3 linked regions of the Homo sapiens genome follow. The protein of the gene in region 2 interacts with the protein of the main gene of each other region in a pairwise test. Each region holds a gene or a part of one and is shown on either strand. Other genes may lie near its edges.

The links. Proteins that work in one complex are often made in the same cells at the same time.
Region 1: the proteins of SLC30A3 (region 2) and SGPL1 interact in binary tests that used the Homo sapiens proteins (3 or more experiments, as listed by UniProt).
Region 3: the proteins of SLC30A3 (region 2) and ELOVL4 interact in binary tests that used the Homo sapiens proteins (3 or more experiments, as listed by UniProt).

The regions. Positions count from the first base shown.
Region 1 is NC_000010.11:70,874,937-70,881,699, forward strand, and holds the end of SGPL1 (sphingosine-1-phosphate lyase 1), read left to right. Parts: intron 1-465; coding exon 466-612; intron 613-1,604; coding exon 1,605-1,725; intron 1,726-2,258; coding exon 2,259-2,399; 3' UTR 2,400-6,248; downstream 6,249-6,763. UniProt on the Homo sapiens protein: Cleaves phosphorylated sphingoid bases (PSBs), such as sphingosine-1-phosphate, into fatty aldehydes and phosphoethanolamine. Elevates stress-induced ceramide production and apoptosis.
Region 2 is NC_000002.12:27,260,048-27,267,489, forward strand, and holds the start of SLC30A3 (probable proton-coupled zinc antiporter SLC30A3), read right to left. Parts: upstream 3,001-7,442; 5' UTR 2,860-3,000; coding exon 2,765-2,859; intron 1-2,764. UniProt on the Homo sapiens protein: Probable proton-coupled zinc ion antiporter mediating the import of zinc from cytoplasm into synaptic vesicles and participating to cellular zinc ion homeostasis in the brain.
Region 3 is NC_000006.12:79,937,539-79,944,564, forward strand, and holds part of ELOVL4 (very long chain fatty acid elongase 4), read right to left. Parts: intron 1-7,026. UniProt on the Homo sapiens protein: Catalyzes the first and rate-limiting reaction of the four reactions that constitute the long-chain fatty acids elongation cycle.

The DNA.
Region 1 (6,763 bases), on a different chromosome or scaffold from region 2:
GATATATATAAAAGGTCCTCCTATAGCTCTGATAGGGCCATTTATTAAGACCTGCTATACCATTTCTTGCTTTAGGGATTACATATGACTTTTTAGAACTGTGGAGATGGGCAGATTACTTTTCCAGAAATTTTTTTAGTACATCTTTCATGCCTCAGAAGCATCTAGGGGAATATAATTGGGAGTTGGGTAGACAGGTTCGAAGTCAGTGATTGAGTCATTAGATCTAGATGGGGTTTGGGCCTTGGAATTCCATTTTTATTGTTCCATCTATGATTCTGATCTCAGTAAGAACCACTGATCCAGTGTAGCCCTCTTCTTTTTTGAAGATGAGAAGACTAAAGCCCAAAGGGTTAGATTGCATTCATTATAAGGAAGACTTTGAATGATTAAAGAGATAGTGACCAGGGGATTGTATGTGACTGAATTTACTTTTTCTTCCTTCATTTATTTTTTTGTTTTAAGACTGGAAAATATCAAAGGCATCTTTGTTTTTGGGAATCCCCAATTGTCAGTCATTGCTCTGGGATCCCGTGATTTTGACATCTACCGACTATCAAACCTGATGACTGCTAAGGGGTGGAACTTGAACCAGTTGCAGTTCCCACCCAGGTAAGCTTGAAGAAGCCTCTTTCCCTTATTTTGCTCCATGATTTTGGAAGAACTTGGGTGGTACAGTAACCTGAAGTATAGAGTTTGACTGCTAGAGGCTAGCACGTTAGTAGCAACTGTAGTATATAAAGGATTTCTCTCTTGCCACCTGGAATTATTAGATACAAAGAACAAGACCATTAGCTTTAAACTCTGGCAGAATTAGGTGACAGCCTCCTAGACCAGTGGTTGGTCATGAGGTTTTTCTCTCAGTCTCTAGCCTTTCTACTCTCCAATCCATCTTGTACACAGCCATCAAATTGCTCTTATAAAATACTTGTTACCTGGCTAATATTTAGTTCAAGATCTTCCTGGGGGTCTCTAATCATTCAGGCCTGCTACTGCCTTCTTTATTAGACTTTTCTAACCTAATCTTCCATGATGCCTTTGAGTAAATGCACCACTCCAACTGAGTACAGGTCTGTTCATGTCCTCTGTGTACAGCTTAGCCTTCCACACGTTGGTGCATTGCCAGTCCCATCTGGACTATCTTTTTCCCTCTTCACAATTCCAGTAAACCCCACTAAATTCCTCCAGGGCGAGGTAGAATTTCTTCTGTGCCCTGAAGTCCTTTAAGACCCCAGCCATGTGGCCCTGTCCCCATGAGAGCACATGGGGGCTGATTATCTAAGATAAAAGTGTCTCATTGATGGTGACGTGGTTGAAGGAATGGTGGTGGAATTTGTGAGGGGATGGGTGGGACAAAGCAGCCAACACTGTTCATCCTCTTAGCATGGTTCTCAGTCATGCCGAGAAGCTCTGAGGCCAGCCCATGCCTGACACCCCAAGCATGAGAGAGCCGAGATTCCCAGGACTAGGAACAACTTGGATGACTACACTTGTCAGAAATATTGTGAAAGGGCAACCAGGAAATTCCCGTATTTGGGGCTGCATCATTTTAGAACATTTTTTCTTTCTTCAAGGTTCATCTCTCTCTGTCTCTTCTTTCCTAGTATTCATTTCTGCATCACATTACTACACGCCCGGAAACGAGTAGCTATACAATTCCTAAAGGACATTCGAGAATCTGTCACTCAAATCATGAAGAATCCTAAAGCGAAGACCACAGGAATGGTAGGGACACTTGGAGTTTTTTTTCTTCTCTTGGAAATTTAGGTGTTGGTGGAGAGTTTGAAGGAATCATATGACCCGGAGTCTGTTCCTGCCTCTGCCCCTTTGCCACAGACATCTTTTATTTGTTGACTGGAGCTGATGATCTCTGCATCACCCACCCCTTAGGGTTGCTGAAGTCTCAAATGAGATACACTATAAAGTACCTTGTAAGTTAGAGACTTCTGTATAAAAGCAGCTGGTGGTAGTGTCCATTTGAAAAGAAAATTTTGTCACAGGAAAGATAGTAAACATGTTTTTTCTGGAATTTTCTTAGGCTAGTCCCTTTATGCAGAAAGGCAGACTGGAAAGTCCCTGTGAAAAATTGACTATGCCAGCTGTTTTTCTGATAGAATGATGGGATGCCTTAGGTGGAAATGGGGTAGGGCAGTGCACATGCGAAGCTAGGACTCGGGGAGAAGGGGCTCATTGCTGCAGTTTTATTCTTGCTTTTGGACCTGGCCTCACTAATAATGTCTCTTTCTTTGGATTTGTAGGGTGCCATCTATGGCATGGCCCAGACAACTGTTGACAGGAATATGGTTGCAGAATTGTCCTCAGTCTTCTTGGACAGCTTGTACAGCACCGACACTGTCACCCAGGGCAGCCAGATGAATGGTTCTCCAAAACCCCACTGAACTTGGACCCTTTCTAGTCTCAAGGGGATTCCAGCCTTCAGAAGGTTCTTGGGATATGGAACAGGCCGTGCACAACTTTGACATCTGGTCTTGCTCCATAGAGCACAACTCAAGATAGACCATGAGACAGCTTGAGCCTCAGGATTCTTGTTCTTCCTCTTATCTTCCTTTTGTGGTTTTTAATTTGAAGACCCCAGAGAATTCCATTACATAATGATTTTGCCCTTGTTATAAATGTTACCCTAGGAATTGTTTTAACCATTTCCTTTTCTAAACTCTCTAGCTTTCAACTTTACTTAAACATTGTGTGGTAGCTCTGACCTGTCCTGATTCTTTAGAGAAGCTGGGGTACAGTTTATGAGATAGCTAGAGCTTCTTTGTTATCTCAGGCAGGAGGCGTTTACATAACAGATGTTTCCTCAGCTGGGTGTGAGGTATACTCTAAGCAGGAGGCTTTTTCAGCCTTCTCTCTCTTTTTTTTTTTTTTTTTTTTTTTTGAGATGGAATTTTGCTCTTTTGCCCAGTCTGGAGTGCAGTGGCATGATCTCAGCTCACTGCAACCTCCACCCACTGGGTTCAAGCGATTCTTCTGCCTCAGCCTCCCGAGTAGCTGGGATTACCGGCACCCACCACCACGCCTGGCTAATTTTTCAATTTTCTTTTTCAGTAGAGACGGGTTCACCGTGTTGGCCAGGCTGGTCTTGAACTCCTGACCTCAGGTGATACCCGCCCCCCCGCCTCAGCCTCCCAAAGTGCTGGGATTACAGGCGTGAGCCACCGTGCCTGGCCCTGTCTCTCTTAAGAGTAGGTTCATTGTCTGTCTTAGAGTCACTTCTATTGCAACTCATTTTCTTTTTCCAGGGCACAGATCGACCAAGCTGCCGTTCCCTATTCTGCAGGACAGGACTATTCTAGCATACCTGCTTCGTCCACCCAGGCAGGGTTTGGGGTGGTCTCTTCTGTGCCTGCAGTCCCCATTTGACACTTGGTTGCCACCATCTTTGGAGATTATTGTTTGGAATGATGCTTCCATTGGCTTTTTCTTGTTACCATGGACTAGGAAGAAAACATGGTTTCCAAATAATCTGGGAGCTTTTGGCCATGGTGCCGCCTTCCTGAATTGGCAGTGGTCAGAGCACACCTGAACCCTATCCTGGGCTGGTGATGAGCAGAAATCAGACCTTTTTCTATGCTTTTTTGAATATCAGAGTAGGATGAACACCCAGATTCAAATATGTCACCAAAGTTGGTGGTGGTCCTTCCCTGCACCCTTGCGTTAAGCCATTATGTAATGAAAATGTGTTTGCTTGAAGGAACAGCTCAAAGCACCTTCACAAGTTGCCTTGACTTACCCTAGGTGGGTGTGAAAGAGCACCCGTAGCAAGGAAAATTTTCTCTATTAGTGTGTTCTTCTGCCTCTTCCCCCTTGATTCAGCTTTCAGAGGTACTATGGCAGTTTTGCCTCAGGTGCTGAACATTTCTCAGCCCTGGCTAAAAGGGAGCAGCACAGGGAGAGAAACAGGATAGGAAAGCAGAATGGCGAGCAGCCTATGGCCCAGGGCCTGTAATCCCTTCCCAAGACTAGCTGCTCAGGGTGGTGCAGGGACAGGACCAGACCCTGCGCCTATTTCCTGCCTTCTTTCCCCTATAGGGAACTCTGTAGGCTGAGCCACTGTCCTGCTCTTATGACATTATATCTTGTGCCTTTCTCCTCAGCAGTGAGCAGTGAGCTACTCCTGGCCCAGGCCCTAGGGGAAATGGATCAGTCTTTGAGGTTTCTATTTGGGGAGGGGAGTACTTAAGATGAGTCAAAAGACACTTTCCTCTGTTCCATTCCCCATCTCAGGGACTCCTGAATATTCAGCCTCTCCAGGCTGGTGTCTTCTAGTTTCCCCCACTGGGAATGCTGGCTGGGAGAGCCATGACTACCAGACTTTTCCTCAGGCTCCTTGGCATGTTAGTCTGAATTGTTCTTGAGCACTGTACTACTGACCCAACAACTGTGACTAGCTGGCCACGCCATTCAGGGCTGGTGTGGCATTTATGTGTGTGTGTGTGTGTGTGTGTGTTTTTCCTGTTTGCCCAGCAGTGCATTGTGGGTTCCAAGAGTGGGTAGTGTGTGTATGTGTGTGTGTCAGAGGGAGACCTGGCAGGCACCTCTTTGAGAGTAGCTGTGGTCAGAGCTGTTTGGTCAGTGCATTATGTTGAATGAGGTCCAGGAACCCAGAGCCACCCAGCAGACACCACTGTGGCTTGCCAGCTGCCAAGATGGAGAAGCATGTGCCCCTGTAGAGCGTCTCCCCAGAACCAGACCCCGAGCCACTCGCTTCCTCTGTGCTGTGACAACATTGGTGCCAGGGGAGATGGTGTTTTTCAAAGGGACCTACTGTAGCCACTTTAATTTACAATTAAGAGCCTTAGTTTGACTTAACACTTTTGTAGGCTTTTCATTGTGTATTTTTGTGTATGTGTGCATATAGCAGCTACTCTGTAGCAGAGGTGGGTAGAGACACTTAATAGTATCATGTCGCATGCAGATGTCACATCGGCCTCTGCAAAAACTGTACTGTCTTGTTTCTGCATTAGACTTAAGTAGTCATGTGAATATACTGCTATGTCACTTTTAATATTACGAGTTTTATACTTGGAAAATGGTACTTGCTTCTTTTAAATCTCTGTCTTCTCTAACCTCCCCCTTCCCATTTCAATGCTCCCTTCCTAATTTCAGCAATAATCTCAAAAAGCAATTAAATAGTTAAATGACCCTAATTGTAATTACTGTGGATGGTTGCATTCATTTGATTACTTGGGCACACACGAGATGACAAATGGGGCAGTGGCCATGCTTGAATGGGCTCCTGGTGAGAGATTGCCCCCTGGTGGTGAAACAATCGTGTGTGCCCACTGATACCAAGACCAATGAAAGAGACACAGTTAAGCAGCAATCCATCTCATTTCCAGGCACTTCAATAGGTCGCTGATTGGTCCTTGCACCAGCAGTGGTAGTCGTACCTATTTCAGAGAGGTCTGAAATTCAGGTTCTTAGTTTGCCAGGGACAGGCCCTATCTTATATTTTTTTCCATCTTCATCATCCACTTCTGCTTACAGTTTGCTGCTTACAATAACTTAATGATGGATTGAGTTATCTGGGTGGTCTCTAGCCATCTGGGCAGTGTGGTTCTGTCTAACCAAAGGGCATTGGCCTCAAACCCTGCATTTGGTTTAGGGGCTAACAGAGCTCCTCAGATAATCTTCACACACATGTAACTGCTGGAGATCTTATTCTATTATGAATAAGAAACGAGAAGTTTTTCCAAAGTGTTAGTCAGGATCTGAAGGCTGTCATTCAGATAACCCAGCTTTTCCTTTTGGCTTTTAGCCCATTCAGACTTTGCCAGAGTCAAGCCAAGGATTGCTTTTTTGCTACAGTTTTCTGCCAAATGGCCTAGTTCCTGAGTACCTGGAAACCAGAGAGAAAGAGGATCCAGGATGTACTTGGATGAGGAGGCCTGGCTTATCTAGGAAGTCGTGTCTGGGGTGCTTATTGCTGCTCCATACAGCTGTACGTCAGCCCCTTGGCCTTCTCTGTAGGTTCTTGGCAGCAATGAGCAGCTTTCACTCAGTGACACAAGTAATTACTGAGTCCTAATTTGATAGCCACCAACTGTACCTGGGTAGGCAAAGTCAGATTTTTGAGAACCTTTTTCCTGATTTGAAGTTTTAATTACCTTATTTTCTTTTATGCTTTCCTCTGTCTTGTAATCTTTTCTCTTCTTAATATCCTTCCCTATAATTTCAATTATTTGGATTAATTTTAGAATAAACCTATTTATTTCTAAAAAAAAAAAGAAAAGAAAGTGTTACCTGTGTCTTTGTCTCACATGAATGTGCTTCATACAACTGTAGTGCTGCCAAGGTTGGCTTTATTTTTTGGAGACAAGGTTTCACTGTCACCCAGGCTAGAGGGCAATGGCATGATCATCACTCACTGTAGCCTTGACTTCCTGGGCTCAAGTGATCCTCCCACCTCAGCCTCCCGAGTAGCTGGGACCACAGGTGTGTGCCACCATGCCTGGCTAATTTTTCTGTATATTCTGTAGAGACAGAGTTTCTCTACATTGCCCAGCCTAGTCTCTAACTCCTGAGCTCAAATGATCCTCCCGCCTTGGCCTCCCAAAGTGTTGGAAATACAGGCATGAGCTGTCCCTGCATCGGGTGAACATTTTTCAACCCTTGACCCATGAAAATAAGCAGAGGCAGGAATGTAACATAACAGCATAGTCCATACCTCCGCATCTGGCGTCTTCTGTCCTTCAGTCCTCCAGTCATCAGATCAAAGCACACTTGGAAAATTTTAAGTCAG
Region 2 (7,442 bases):
AGGGAAGGTGGAGTGAAGTGTGGAGTGGGACTCAGCATGTGTTCCTGGCCTTGGTGTGCCTCCTTTCCAGGCCCACCTCCCAGAACCTCCACTCCTGGATCCTGCCCCCGCCCTCCCTAGACATGAAGCTGAAGTGTGGCCCTTTAAGAGACGAGCGGGACATTGGGGCCAAAAAGTCTGATTCCGGGCACAGAGAACTGATGGCTAGATTCCAGAGCTGGGGTTGTCATGGGAGGAAGGGGTGCAGCCTGCTATGGCTGAGGATGGCAGTGGGAGGAGCATGTTAATTGGACTTCAGTCCGACTATAAGCACCCAGCAGAGCCCACCTTAACTGCATGGTACCATAAGTCTCCCTTGACAAATGAATGGGGCTTGGGACCTCACCTGGGGATGCCAGAGGCTGAGTGAGGTCAGGCTGAGTGCTAAGTCCATTCTGGTCCAATTCTCAGCCCCACCACTACCCAACCTGAACCCAGCAAGGACAGAATTTTCCACAGAATTCAGGACCTGAATAGAAAATACAGTACTAGAAATACTCATGGAGGTGTGACAAGAATACCCACAAGTAAAAACGATGGCTCCAGATAGAAATGTGATCATAGCAGCAAAGTGGGGCGGGATGTCTGGGGCCTTCTGGCTAAAGACAATTCTGCCAAGTGGGTGAACTGAGTTTTGAGGGAGGTAGGGGGAACATTTGGTGCTTGTACAGAGAACTGAAATACTGGTAGATTAATTTCTTGAATTTCCAAAGCCCCATCCAAGACTTAGAATCTGGGCGTGTATGATTCTGGATGTGTTTCCAGAGGAGATGGCGTGGTGAAGGAGGCTGTGAAACCGATCCTCATTCATTCAATGAGGTGCACCAGGCAGAGCACACATAATGAAGCCTGGTCTGGTGGGAAAGACAGATTGTAACAAATGGCTTACTACATAAGGACAGGTTGATGCTAGGAGGGTTATGAACAAAGCACTTTGGGGTGCAGGGAAGGGAGCACTCCCTCACAGCGGGCTCGGAGAACTTCACAGAGAAAGGTATGTTTAAGGAGATGAGACCTAGTTGGAGAAGGGTGTTCCAGACATGTAGAATGACAAAGACGAGGTTTGTGGCTTGGAGTCTAAGCGTGAAGTGTCAGGGGAGGGCTGAGGAGGAAAGTGATGGGCTCAAAGGAACATAAAGGGAGATACACTGACTGCTTGAACAAATATCTCCTGAGCACTGAGATGACCTTGCTGATGGGAGGAAGAGAGGAGAAGAGAGGAAATGGAGGGGTCTAGAACAAACCAGGCCAGAGCTTCCCTGGAGGGGCAGGTAGGTTAGGAAATGCCTTTCAGAAAATGCTGCAGGATTCGGTGACTAATGGTCATATGAGTGAAGATGGACTGGAGTTGGAGATGTGAGTCTGAAGCGCAGAGGCTGGGTGGCTTTGGGGGCAGTGGGCAACATTCATTCCCTGGCCTTGTAAGGCACAGCACAGCCAGTCATCAAGGTGGCCACCCATCAACAGGCTGCTCCCTTTTGTTCTGCATAATTTGGGCACTAAGGAAGCCTGGCTGTTGGTGTGTGGGGGTGTGGGCATGTGGGGTGGCTACATGCTGTTTAGAGACAAGGAAAGGCTGTTTCCTCTCCCTGGCCCTCCGAAACCCCCAACCAACAACCGATATTGAGCGGGGAAGAGGGGTGACGTAGCAGGGGCTGAACCAAAATCAAAAGGACACCTGAAGAGATGCCAGGCCTACGGCAGAGCCCCCACCGCGTCTCTGCAGGCCCCTGCAGGAAGGGGTCCAGCTCTCTTCTGCTCACCCCCTCCCCCAACCCAGCTTGAAGGCCCCCACCCAAAGAAAGAGCGAGAAGCACACAGAAGCACCACGTCAGAGACAAAGGGAAAGGGACTAGGAGAGAAACAGAAAGATTGAGAGAGGTGGGGGAAGAGAAAAAGCCGGAGACCCTGCCAAATTCCGGAGACAAACGGACGGTCAGCCGACAGACAAGATGGCCCACGGGGGTGGGCAGGGAGGTCGGACGGCCGCTCAGAGGGGCAGGTGGACGGTGGCGGCAGGCGCGGGGGCCGGCGGGGCGCGTTGGCGGTTCTCCTGCCACCCCCGGCCCGCTGTCCCGGCCGCTCCGCGCGCCTCATTTCACACCTCGCCGCCCCCGGCCCCGTCTGTGCGGAGCCGGGAATACCCCCGCTGCCCAGACCGCACCTGCTCCTTCCTCGCCGCCCCCTCGCTTCCCGGCGGCCGCCCGCCCCCCAGGGGCCCGCAAGACCCGCGCGGAGCCCGGCCCATCCTCGGGCCCCGGCGCCCACAGCTGGCCGCGGCTGGAGGGGGCGCGCGGAGGGGAGCCCCCGGGGCCTACAGAGGGAGCTCTGAAGCCTGGGCAGCGAGGCGCTCCCGCCCTGGGCCCGGGGCAATGCGGACCTTGGCGCACCGGGCGAGGGCTCCGGCCCGACCGAGCGGCAGCTGCTCCCAGGGAAGGCAGGCGCCGCGGGGGTGGCGGAGGGGTCCGGCGGCCTGGGACGCCGGCCGGAGGGGAGTGAGAGGCCGCTTCACCCGAGGAAGTCAGGCGGCCGGGAGGAGGCGTAGCCGGCTGTGTAGGGCTGGGCGCTCCGTGTGGCCAGAGGGGATGAAGCGGGGTGCAGCGGAGCGAGGGACCCGCGGTGCGCTGGGGCGGCCGCCGGGGCCCGCGCCGAGAGAGACAACGAAATGGACGGAGGGTAGTAGGGTGGCGCCCCCGGGCCGAGGGCCAGCCCAGGTCTGTCCTACCTCTTCAAACGCAGGCTGCCTCCGGCGCCACCGCGGTCCCGGGGGCTCACCAGGCGAGTGGTCTCCAAGCCCCCAGCGGCTGGAGAGGGCTCCATGTTCCCGGTGCCCCGACCGTCTAGGCCCCACCGAGGAAGAGAGAGGCCGGGCCGGCCCCGCGCCAAGTCCGAGCAGCCCGCCGACCCCCGGGATCCCCGCAGGGCGGCGGGGCCACCAGAGTGGAGCGAACTGCAGCGACTGTGGCGCGCGGAGTCCGAACTGCAGATCCCGCTGCCGCCGGAGCCCCGCCCCGCGTGGGGCGAGCTCCCCAAGCTCCGCCTCCAGGCTCCCCGGCCTCTCCCCACCCTTAAGCCCCGCCCCCACTGCCAAAGCCCCATTTCCCCGCGCCAGAGCCCGGGAGCGCCCCGCCACCCGAGTTCTGGAGAACTCCTCATCTCCACAGCCCCGTCCCCCAGGCGAGCTAGCCCCACCTCTGCACACAGTCCCGCCCACCGGTTCCAAGCCTCGCTCCTGAAGCCCAAGAACCTCACGACCAACCTTCGCCCAACGACCACCACTCTGTGCATGCCTGCGCGGGGGTGTCGCCCACCACGCCGTCACCCTGTGGCCGCAACCCTCACGCGGAGGCAGAAACAGGAGCGGACCCATTACCTATCTCCAGAGAACCAGAAAGAACATGAGGTGAGCGGTGACACAGGGAGATTCCAGGGACTCCAGAAACCCCTTTACGGAGAATCTGGGGTCGGAATTCACGAGCCCAGTCTGCTGCCAATCACTGTACCGCGAATGATCATTTATTTTTATACAGAAACATTGGGTGACAAGCTTCCTGCTCTCCTTCAACCCACTGTTATCCCTGCTTTTCAAATGAGTAAACTGAGACCCAGAGGAAGAAGAGTCCAAGGTCATGCAGGCTGTGAATAAAGGGCCCGGCCTGGACCCCCATCCTCTTTCCCTCCCCGGCTCTGGACGCCGCACTGGCAACTGGAGAGCGCTCACAGTTCTCTTACGGGCGGGGGTCCAGTGAAGTCGAGCCGCCTATCTGGTGTCACGGCCACTGTTTATGGAGAGGGGCTGAGGGGCAGCGGGGCAGCGTGTCAGCTAGTGATTCCCATCCTCCACACCTGCAGCGCCCTCCTGGACATTACCGCATTCTGCCTCATTTGGGGGAAACTAAAACCCAGGGGAGGGAGCGACTTACAGCAAAGTCGGTGGCCGAGCCTCAAGTCGAAGCTTCAAATGCTCAATGTTCTCTCCCCTCGCACCTGCCGCCACTGTAGAATGGGAGGGGGTGGGAAGAGGATTGTGCACTCGAAGCTGTGACAGTCTGTGAAGAGGAGGGTCCGTAGGAGGAGGGGAGCGAGTGAGCAGGGATGGGGAAGCGTGGAGGGTGGGAATGGTTAGTGAGCCCAGGCAAGAAACTCATCAGCCGCATCCTTCAGAACACACTGGGCGTCCTGAACTTAGGCTTCTGGGGACAGACACCTACCCTCGATATTGTTATTCCAACGAGCCCAAGAGTGCACTTGCAAAAAAACAAAACAAAACAAAACAAAAACGGGAGCACGTGCCAGATACAGTGGTTGGAAGTGATGGGGTTAACCCGGGAGAGCTTCGCGGAGGAGGTGAGGCTTAAACGGATTAGGAAAGCTGGGCGGCGGGCTGGCTGTTCCGGCGGGGGAGAGTGTGGCTTGGCCCGTGCCAAGGTGTGCGGGCGGCGCGTGCGAAGGGACTGTCCTGCGCCGCTGCTGCAGAGCGGCACGGGAGAGCCACAGGGGCTGCGCGCGCCCTCCGCGCCGTCCCCACCCCCGGCTGCGCCAGCCTCTCCTCCGCGCCAGCCCCCAGCCTCCCCAGTCCAAAGCCCATGAGGGGTGAGGGGGTAAGGGAGCGAGGGGGTCGTTCTCCCTCTAACCTCCCTTTAAGGCGCGGGACTTGACGGACCTCTGTTTCTCCTCGGGTCACAGGGAAGCAAATTGAGGCGGCGAGAGCAGGAAACCACCGGCCAAGTTCACCTTTTCGGGCTACTTATCAGAGCCAAGGTGGAACCCAAGTCCCTGCTTAGCTATGCCAGGGCTCTGGGTACGTCGGGCCCGGCGCCGTCGGTTTTCTAAGCGTCGCACCCATCCTAGGGCTCTCCCCAATTCTGAGAACCCTGGAGCTGGGATGCGCAGCGGCCACCGCGCACTCCGCGGCTCGGATGCGGCAGCCTGGCCCGTAGTGACCCTGGCGGGTGAGCTCGAGAATGGGGAGAAACTGCGGGGTCCTATGCGGGGAAAGGGATTCTTGGCACGGCTCAGCCGATGACGACAACAGGGGACATAACAACAATGGCTTCCTCCGGGATTTCCCTTCCCGGGCAGCCCGCGCGGCCAGCAGCACCGAGTGCCAGGAGGGGGCGCAGACGCCCTCACGTGCCCTGCCCGCCCCTGCCGGGAGCCACCAGGCGGGGAAGGCAGAGGCGCCTCGCAGCGCGTGGCCAAACGTGCCGCCTCCAGAAACCGAGGGCGCCGGCGGTGGGAATACCAACCTTCACTTGAAAATTTATGTAAGGAAAGCTTGGCGGCGAAACAGGATGCTTCCACCTGTTCCTCAAAGAGCTATCAAATGGCCCTGTGAACATCTTTGCAAAGGGTCCTCGCGAATGCCAGGCCTCAAGTGCGATTCTCTGCACTGAGGTCAGGATTTAATCTGGGCTGGAGATTTCAGGCAAATTTTAAAATGTAAGCATGTGGACAAGAGTTAACACCTGACAAGTGCAAGCCAAGCTGAAGAGCATGGACAGAGGAGGCAACCTGGAGGTCCAACTTCTACTCCATGCTCCACTCAGATGTCACCTCCAGGAAGCCTTTCCTGACTTCTCCCAGACTGGGTATGTGTCCCTCCCTGCTTCTCTCAAGGCTCACACTGTGCTTATCTGATCCCAGCACTCACCTCATGGTGATGAAGTCCTTTGCTTGTCTGTCTCCCTGCTACAGGGCAAGCTCCCTGAAGGCAGGAATTGTTTCTTTCTCATCTGTGTCCCCAAACCCCACTAATGGCTGCCACACTGTCCTCAATTAAGCCATCCCAGAAAGGAGGAGCTAGTTGAGTGGAAGCAGGATGGAGGAGGTAGGATTTTAGCTGGTCACAGGGAGAATGAGGGAGGGCAACAGCTTAAATGTCACTGCCTCGGGGAGGCCTTCTCTGGCCCCCACACTAAGTTAATTCTCATGTCATACACTCTCATCGCACAATACTTTTTCTGTTTTGTTCTTTTTTTTTTTTTTTTGGAAACAGGGTCTCACTCTGTTGCTCAGGCTGGAGTGCAGTGGTACAAACATGGCTCACCACAGCCTCGACCTCCTGGACTCAAGTGATCCTCCTGCCTCAGCCTCCCAAAGTGCTGGGACTACAGGTGTGAGCCACCATGCTGGGTCAACACACTGTTTATTTCTTTCAGCACTGATCATACTGTAACTAAATTGTTACTTGGGAATTATTTGTTTCATCATTTGGCTTCCAGGCTACCATAATCTGGTTTTCCTCCTACTTCACTGGCTGTTTATTTTCAGTCCCCTTTGCTGGTTCCTCCCCACCTTCTCAATCTTTTCTTGCTGAATTAGCCTAGGCCTTGGTCACTCTCTTCTCTTTTCTTTCCACACTCACTCCCATGGAGCTATCATCCAGTTTCTGGTCTTTAAATACTATCCAATAACAGCAGAAAGTAATGATTGTTGAAGCTAGATTCTGGGTACATAGAGAGTCACTGTACCATTCTCTCTATTTTTGTATGGGTTTGAATTTTTCTATTAAAAAGGATTAAAAATAGCCTGGCTGGTGGCTCACACCTATAATTCCAGCACTTTGGGAGGCCGAGGCAGGCAGATCACTTGAGATCAGGAGTTTGAGACCATCCTGGCCAACATGGTGAAACCCCATCTCTACTAAAAAATACAAAAATTAGCTGGGTGTGGTGGCATGCACCTATAGTCCCACCTACTTGTGAGGCTGAGGCAGGAGAATCACTTGAATTCGGGAGGCAGAGGTTGCAGTGAGCTGAGATTATGCCACTGCACTCCAGCCTGGATGACAGGTGAGATTCCATCTCATAAATAAATAAATAATAAATGTCATGTGTTTGGTGGTGATTCTCAGATCTCTCACTTGGACTCCAAACTCATATATCCACATGTCAGCTTGACATCCCTTCCTTATTGTCTGGTAGGCAGGCCTATCAAGCTCCATAAGTCTAAAACTGAGCCCCTGATTGTCACGCCATCCTGAACCTTCTCTTTCTGCAGTCTTCCCATGTCAGAATATGGTAACTCCATCCTCCCATCTGCTCAGGCCAGACATCCTAGGGTCATCCTCGACTCCTCTATTTTCACTCTACATCCAAGCTGTCAGCAAATCCTGATCCCGCCCTTGTCCAAACCACTATCATCTGTCTTCTTGATTACTGCAATAGCCTCCTCCATGGTCTCCATGTTTCCATCCTTACTGCCTTATAGTCTATTCTCAACCAAGCAGTTAGGTAAACATAGATCAGATTTGTCACTCCCCATCACACTCAGAGTACCAGCCAGAGTCCTTCTAATGGCCTGCAAGGGGTCCTACGGAATTTAGCTCCTCTGATCTCATTTCACACTTCTCCCACCTCATTCCCCAGCCATCCTGGCCTTCTTGTGAGTCCTACAACACA
Region 3 (7,026 bases), on a different chromosome or scaffold from region 2:
ATAACGGTACCGAGCCCAATGGAATATGAGGACTAAATGTGATAATACATATAAAACACTGGACACAGTGCCTGACACTTAGTAAGCATCCAATAAATGTTCACTATTATTACTGGGCAATAAAATGGTATTTATTGAATAAATAAGTAGGCTATGTTGCATTATAAAAAGGTCACTGTTGGGAAGGAGAAAGATCTTGATCCTATTCCAACTCTGTTACTTTCTAGCTATGTAGCTTTGAGTCTATTTCTTCATCTATAGATGGTTAAATAATATCTAACTTATAGAGATGATCTGAAAATTAAATATAAGGTGTATCAAATACAGTACTACAGCATCTTAAAATGGTCCTATACTAAATGCTCAATAAATGGTAGTGAGTTTCATCATGTGCAGACGATATCTGGTTTCAAATTCCTGACCTCAATGATCCACCCGCCTCGGCCTCCCAAAGTGCTGGGATTACAGGCGTGAGCCACCATGCCCAAGTGCAGGTGATGTCCAAATTCATGACTTCAGAAAATGGCCTATTCATAAAAGCCAGTTCATAAGGGAAAAGGAGACAATTTCAAGGGAGAAAATATATCTCGAGAGAGAGAGCTGAAGAATGTTGCCTCGTTTCCTGGAAGCCAAGATCAGAATACAAGTAGTTTCCTTCTCTCCTTGTTTCCAATTTTGCTGGGCTTCTCAGAAAAAGTAGTCATAAAACTTAATCTGGGAGTTCCAAGTTCAACCATCCACCCAATGCTGCCAATGAACTCAAAGCTTTAAGAAAATTGAAATGGTGTTTCCCTTTAGCAAAAAAGATGGAAGATACCATTAGAGTGTGTGAGTGTGTGAGTTAATGGGAACTTTAGCCAAAATCTTCCCTTGACTCTAACAGTTCTATAAGTTGAATAGCCACTGGGTAAAATACGGTTAGTCCTGAATGAATTTCATTATCCTTTCACTAACAAGTTTCTAGCTCTTGTATTATGCAATTTGGCAAATACTTTCATAATTCACTTTGAATACACTTTTTTTAAACAATCCTACACCGTCATATGGAAGTTAACCATCTTCTCAGGCTAAATATCGCATTTTGTATTCTACATATATTCACATATTTGTGTATGTATATAGTATATGAATAAATATCACTTTGTAGTTTAATCTCATACACCAGCCTTTATAGCACCTTTGAATATTTAGATGTCTTTCTTTAGATGATCTTTGGTAATATTATGACTTTGTTCAGATTTAGTATTCTAAACAGTGATACTCTGTAGATAACAATAAAAGAAAAGGTAAAATAAAAGAGAAACACAGATTACAGGCCTGATTATTTCTTTCTTGCTTGGCTAGTGTGACGGGAAGACAAGAGCACTGGGCTAGGGACAAAACAACCCATGCACATTCATTTGCACTATAGTGACCACCTACAAAAGTTACGTAACTTCTGTAAATCTCAAAGACTTCTAAATATATGGAAAAAATGCCTTCAAGGCCTATCTCCCAGAGTTATTGTGAAGTTGTTTGTAAAACCATAAAGCAAAATACAAAGCTAAAGTTTTCTTTCTTGTTATTTGCTACTTTCTAGCCACTCGGATTTTTTTTAAGCCAACAGCTATATAGTCTCTTTATAAAGTCATTTTACTTTAAATTGAAAAAATAAAGAAGAATTGACTGTTTTACCATTGAGCACTAAAGAGATCATTTCTACAGGTGCTAATGTATTAATTTTATAATATATGAAATTCTTGCATTGCGGTAAAAAGAAAAGCACATAACATAAAATATACCATCTTAATCATTTTTAAGTGTACAGTCCAGTATCATTAAGCATATCCACATTGTTGTGACTCTCTGGAACTTTTCTATCTTGAAAAACTGAAACTCTATACCTATTAAACAAGTCATCAGTTCTCCTTCTCCCCAGGCCCTAGCAAACATCTTTCTACTTTCTGTTTCTATTAATTTGACTACTTTATTTATTTATTTATTTATTTATTTATTTATTTATTGGGCCAGGATCTTACTCTGTCACCCAGGCTGGAGTGCAGTGGCACAATTATGGTTCACTGAAGCCTTCACCTCCCAGGTTCAAGTGATCCTTCTCCCTCAGCCTTCTCAATAGCTGAGACTAGAGGCATATGGCACCAGGCCTGGCTAATTTTTAATATTTTTTTGTTGCTCATGTTGGTCTTGAACTCCTGGGCTCAAGTGATCCTTGAGCCTCCACCTCCCAAAGTGCTAGCATTATAGGCATGAGCCACTGGGCCCAGCCCGAATTTGACTACAGTAGAGGGTCCATATAAGTGGAACCATAATGCCACATACATAATTATCTTTTTGTGACTAGACTATTTCACTTAGTAACAAGGTTCATCTATGTTGTAGCACATGTCAGAATTTCTTTCCTTTTTAAGACTGAATAATATTCCATTGTATGTATATACCACGTTGCGTTTATCCATTTATCCAACACTGGACATCTGGGTCGTTTCCACCTCTTAACTACTGTGAATAATGCTGCTATGTACGTGTGTGAAAAAATATATAAAATTAGTTAAAAACACACATCTGTGCTCAAGTTTTTGTTTGATAAGTGAATAAAAATGAAAACAGAAAAGCTTGTTTCTTGGAATTCTGCAGTTCAAAATCACAAATGCTTTTATGTGATTATACCTGACAGTGAGTAACTGATTTCCTCAGTGGACTAATGCATTTGTCTTTCAAATTCCAAAAATTTTACTCTAATACAATATAATCATAAATAAAACATCATTCTAAGGTATTTGTTTACAAATGGTAATATTTCATGAAGAAAAATATATGGCAAAAGATTTTAAAAATTTGTATTTTGATTAGTTAAGGAACATACTTATACCAAAACCATTTAGTTTCTTTTGTTTTCTCTTCTGTAAGACCTACACATTTTTATCAATTTTACAAAAATCTTAAGCCATACTTCCAAACTTAAGTAAAAAATGCTCATATATAAAGTGTTTATAATAGAAAATCATTTGTAATGATGTATGTTAAAATTTCACATTTTCTATTGGAAAAATATGAAGACTGAGTTTAGACTGATATCTAGGCTGCTGTTTTAGGAGATGTTATAAGGATTCAATAAACTAAGCCTTAAAGGTTATGTAGTTCAACCCTCTCACAGCACAGGTAGAAATAAGAGACCCAAAGAGTCATGAATAACTTGCCTAAAACGACATAATATGCCATCCTCAAAAGCTGAGTATCACAAAATAAATGTAATATATAATTGAGATAATTTTATTCTTTAATATTATTGCTACTGTTTTCGATAAAATAGTTGGCTCTTGGTTATTCAAGGAATCCAGATAATTAAACAGGTATAGTGTTACAGCAACAAAAGCAATGTTATTTCAAAACAGACGCTTAAATATCTGTATACTTTTGTTGCTCTATTCCTCTACCTATTTCTTATAAAGCAAATTTTAAAAAGTAAAAAGAACTAAATAAGAATCTGTTATTTGTACTATTTAGGCAGTGTTGATAACAGTTTTGCTGGAAAAAAATTTTATTTACTATAAAGAATGAGGTTTCTGAATCCCTGATAAATGTATATTTATTTGAAATTGCTTTACCTATTCCAAGAATAAAGAAAGTGATATCTATATCTAGACTTTTAGAGTCAGGTAGGACCTTACAGATTACCTAATTTAACCCTCTTAATTTACAGAGAACAATGCTGAGAATTGGGAAGGCAAAGGAACTTGTCCAAACTCTCATAGCAAATCAGCAGCAGACCAGGACTAAAACCTAGGTCATCTAAATCCCAGTCCAGAATTCTTCCCATTCACTATACCACACTGCCCTCCTCACTTCCACACAAGGCAATGCTTCTGCACAGACAATGAAGAGAACAATCATATCTGATTTTATATGTCTTGGAATCTTCATTTTTTATCTGTTTTGTGCTTCTAAATGACTTAATGGCCTGATTTACTCATTAAATTTAGTGAACGGCAACTGAATTAATGACCAACTCATAAAAAATATCATTCTTTTAAAGAACTCTCTGGCCGGGCACAGTGGGTCGTGCCTGTAATCCCAGCACTTTGTGGGGCTGAGGTGGGCAGATCACATGACACCAGGAGTTTAAGAGCAGCCAGGGCAACATGGTGAAATCCCCACTCTATGAAAAACAAAAACAAAAACCTTCTGTAATTTAGTGTGGTCTAAAGCCTTATTCATGTTTAGCAACCACAATATATCATGATTCAAAATTATGCTAGATTAAGAGGGTCATCTCCTGATACATATCATATCAACAAATATATGTGATAATCTCTGATGTTGGAGAGAAAGATACAAAGGAGTGAAGTGGTAAATAATAACGAAAGTTTAAACAGTTTGACACTAGGGTCATAGAAGGAATGGCACAGGAAATACGTGAGTAATTACTAAAGACAATGAGCTCCTGTGAGACAACAACTTGCTCCAGGGTACCATAAACAAGAAAGGCTTTGCAAAGGAGGACTATTGTACTGGGTTCTGGTAAAAGGTATCTGGAGAGGTAAACAGGGAAAAGGTGGGTAAAGGCAAGGGGAATGGTGGGATGAGAAACATAAAGGTGGACATGTACACATTTTACTTAAGGGTCAGTGAGTTATCCCAGTTGGCTAGAGCTGCAGGTCTTTGGGCAGGGGAATACTGAAGGATCAAGCGAGAAAGTTAATGTGGACCTTGGCTTTAAAAGGCCATGTGTTTCCTCCCATCTCCTTTCTGAAATCCAAACCCACATGATTTTAAAATATATATTCTAATAGAAAATAAAACAATAGTACCTTCGTTTGTTAACAGGCAAAATGTCCTGATAATGAAGACGAAAAAAACATCTAAAGTGAAAAAAGATAGACTGTTACACTACTCATTTCGGTGTGCTAATATATGCCTAATTCAGAATAATAAGTGGCTTAACAAATGAAAATACTTACGTTAATAATGTTAAAGCATTTACAGGTGACATTATCCACAGGACTTGAGCAAAAAAATAAGAAAACAAATTGAATTTTTAAAGGATGACCAAGTGCTCTGTGGCTCTTAAGTTTACAAAAGTGCCATCTGATATAATTATCTGCATAATTCTTAAAACTTTGTCTTCCTAAGCCAAAGAATCTAAGTTAAAATAGTTAAAACTGTGTCCTGACACCCGTTTTAGAACCTGCATTGTTTACCCTCCTGGAATTCCATCTGCAATAGGATGTTTTACTTTATGCTATCATTGGGGAATGGATAAGAGCATTAGCTATTAAAGTCTAGCAGTCTACCACCAAAAATCAAACTGTGGTGAAGGAAAAGACAATAAAAACCAAACCAAAACAAAAAACCATAAAATGGCATGGACATCCCAGAGGCTTCAAGGAGCTTATGAGTAAAGGATAATTAGGACGTCACTGAAAACAGTGACCAAGGGAGATCCCATGTTAGGAGCTGGTGATGTTTCTTTCTTTCTTTTTTTTTTTTAATTAGCTGCCTACAACTTGGAATCAGAATGTCTTTTCTCAAAGAAACATTCAAAGAAAACTGCATTACCAGGCTTAGCCAAACAAATAAACCTATTTTAGATAATAACATAGATGAAAAACTAAACATTAACTGTGACGAATAATAAAATTAATGTAAGCATACTGTACAATACTTAAAATACATGCTCCTCTGGGACCTAGCAATCCCTAAGACAAACCTGCTTTTACTTCAGCTTATTTGAGCTGAGTTAAACATCCCCTCCCACTAGCCCCCAGCTTCATCAAACCTGGATGACTCACTGGCCTGACCCTTAAGCACCTTCCCAGTTTCCATGGTTTTCAGTCAAGCTGTTCCCCTTGCCTTTGACACCTTTTGCCCTAGTATGCCTCTCCAAATACTCTGACAGTACTCACATCAACTCCTCATTCAAGGGTAGAGGGAAGTAAACTGTGGTGAAACAGCTAAAATATTCTAAAAACAACTGTATATTCCTTTCACTTAGGAGAAGTAGAGATGAGAAGAGCAGGGAAGGACTTTTCTGATCTTCCCTAGGCCCCAGCTAGTCCTGAGTCTGACAGATCACACTGCCTCCAGACCATGATATCAAGGAAAGGGGAATGACAGTGACCCCCTAGACTTTGCAAGATGCATGAGGGCAGTGACCAAGTGTCCTCCTTTCCTTTCCAGAGCCTAGAACTGTGCCTGTACATGGCAAGTAAATACGGAAAGAAATGGTATCATAAGCCTGGCTTCCACATTTCGTCATCCTACAGCTCTCCTCCCTCTTCCTGTACCACTCATCCCTTCTTTCTGACCCCTCCAAAGTTAATTCAAGGACCCAGCAAGTTATGTTCTAACTGCAACTACCAAGTAGACAATTTTTTTCACCAAAATGCAGGGTACTATATCTGCGAAAAGAGGGCCAATGCCAATCATTACCACCCCCAACCAACAGACAGCACCCATACCCTGTGAACAACAGCTATTTAGAAACAAATGGTCAGAAGATACATGGCCTCACAGGAGACACCTGGCTTTACCGTAAGCATCCTACTAACTCTCTAGGGTGTTTATATGCTAAATGTCAGGTATGCAAAAAAGCTATTAAACATTTATTAAAAGCATGAATAAATGAATAATGTAGATAAGTTGGGTATTCATAGATTGGGGAATATTTAGATTCATCAGTTTAAAAAATGTATATACAACTTTTATTAGATGTATACGTTGAGCCTAGGACTCCAATCCTAATAATTTAAATGTACTCATGAAGTGAAAGAATAGAAGAAAAAAACTAACATGATGACATGGAATACCTACTCTAATACTAACAACTAGTATAAAGTCCTACACCAGCCTATACTTTAACATAAACCAACGCTAATTTCCTCGTTCAAAATGTCTACAAATACAGAGAAATAAAAATTATTTTTGTTGTTTTTCTAAAAGTATAGCTCTTTCAAACTTTCAATTCCAATGTACAAAGTGTTAATACTGTAGTAAAAGTAACATTTTTGTTGTTAACATTATTATGGA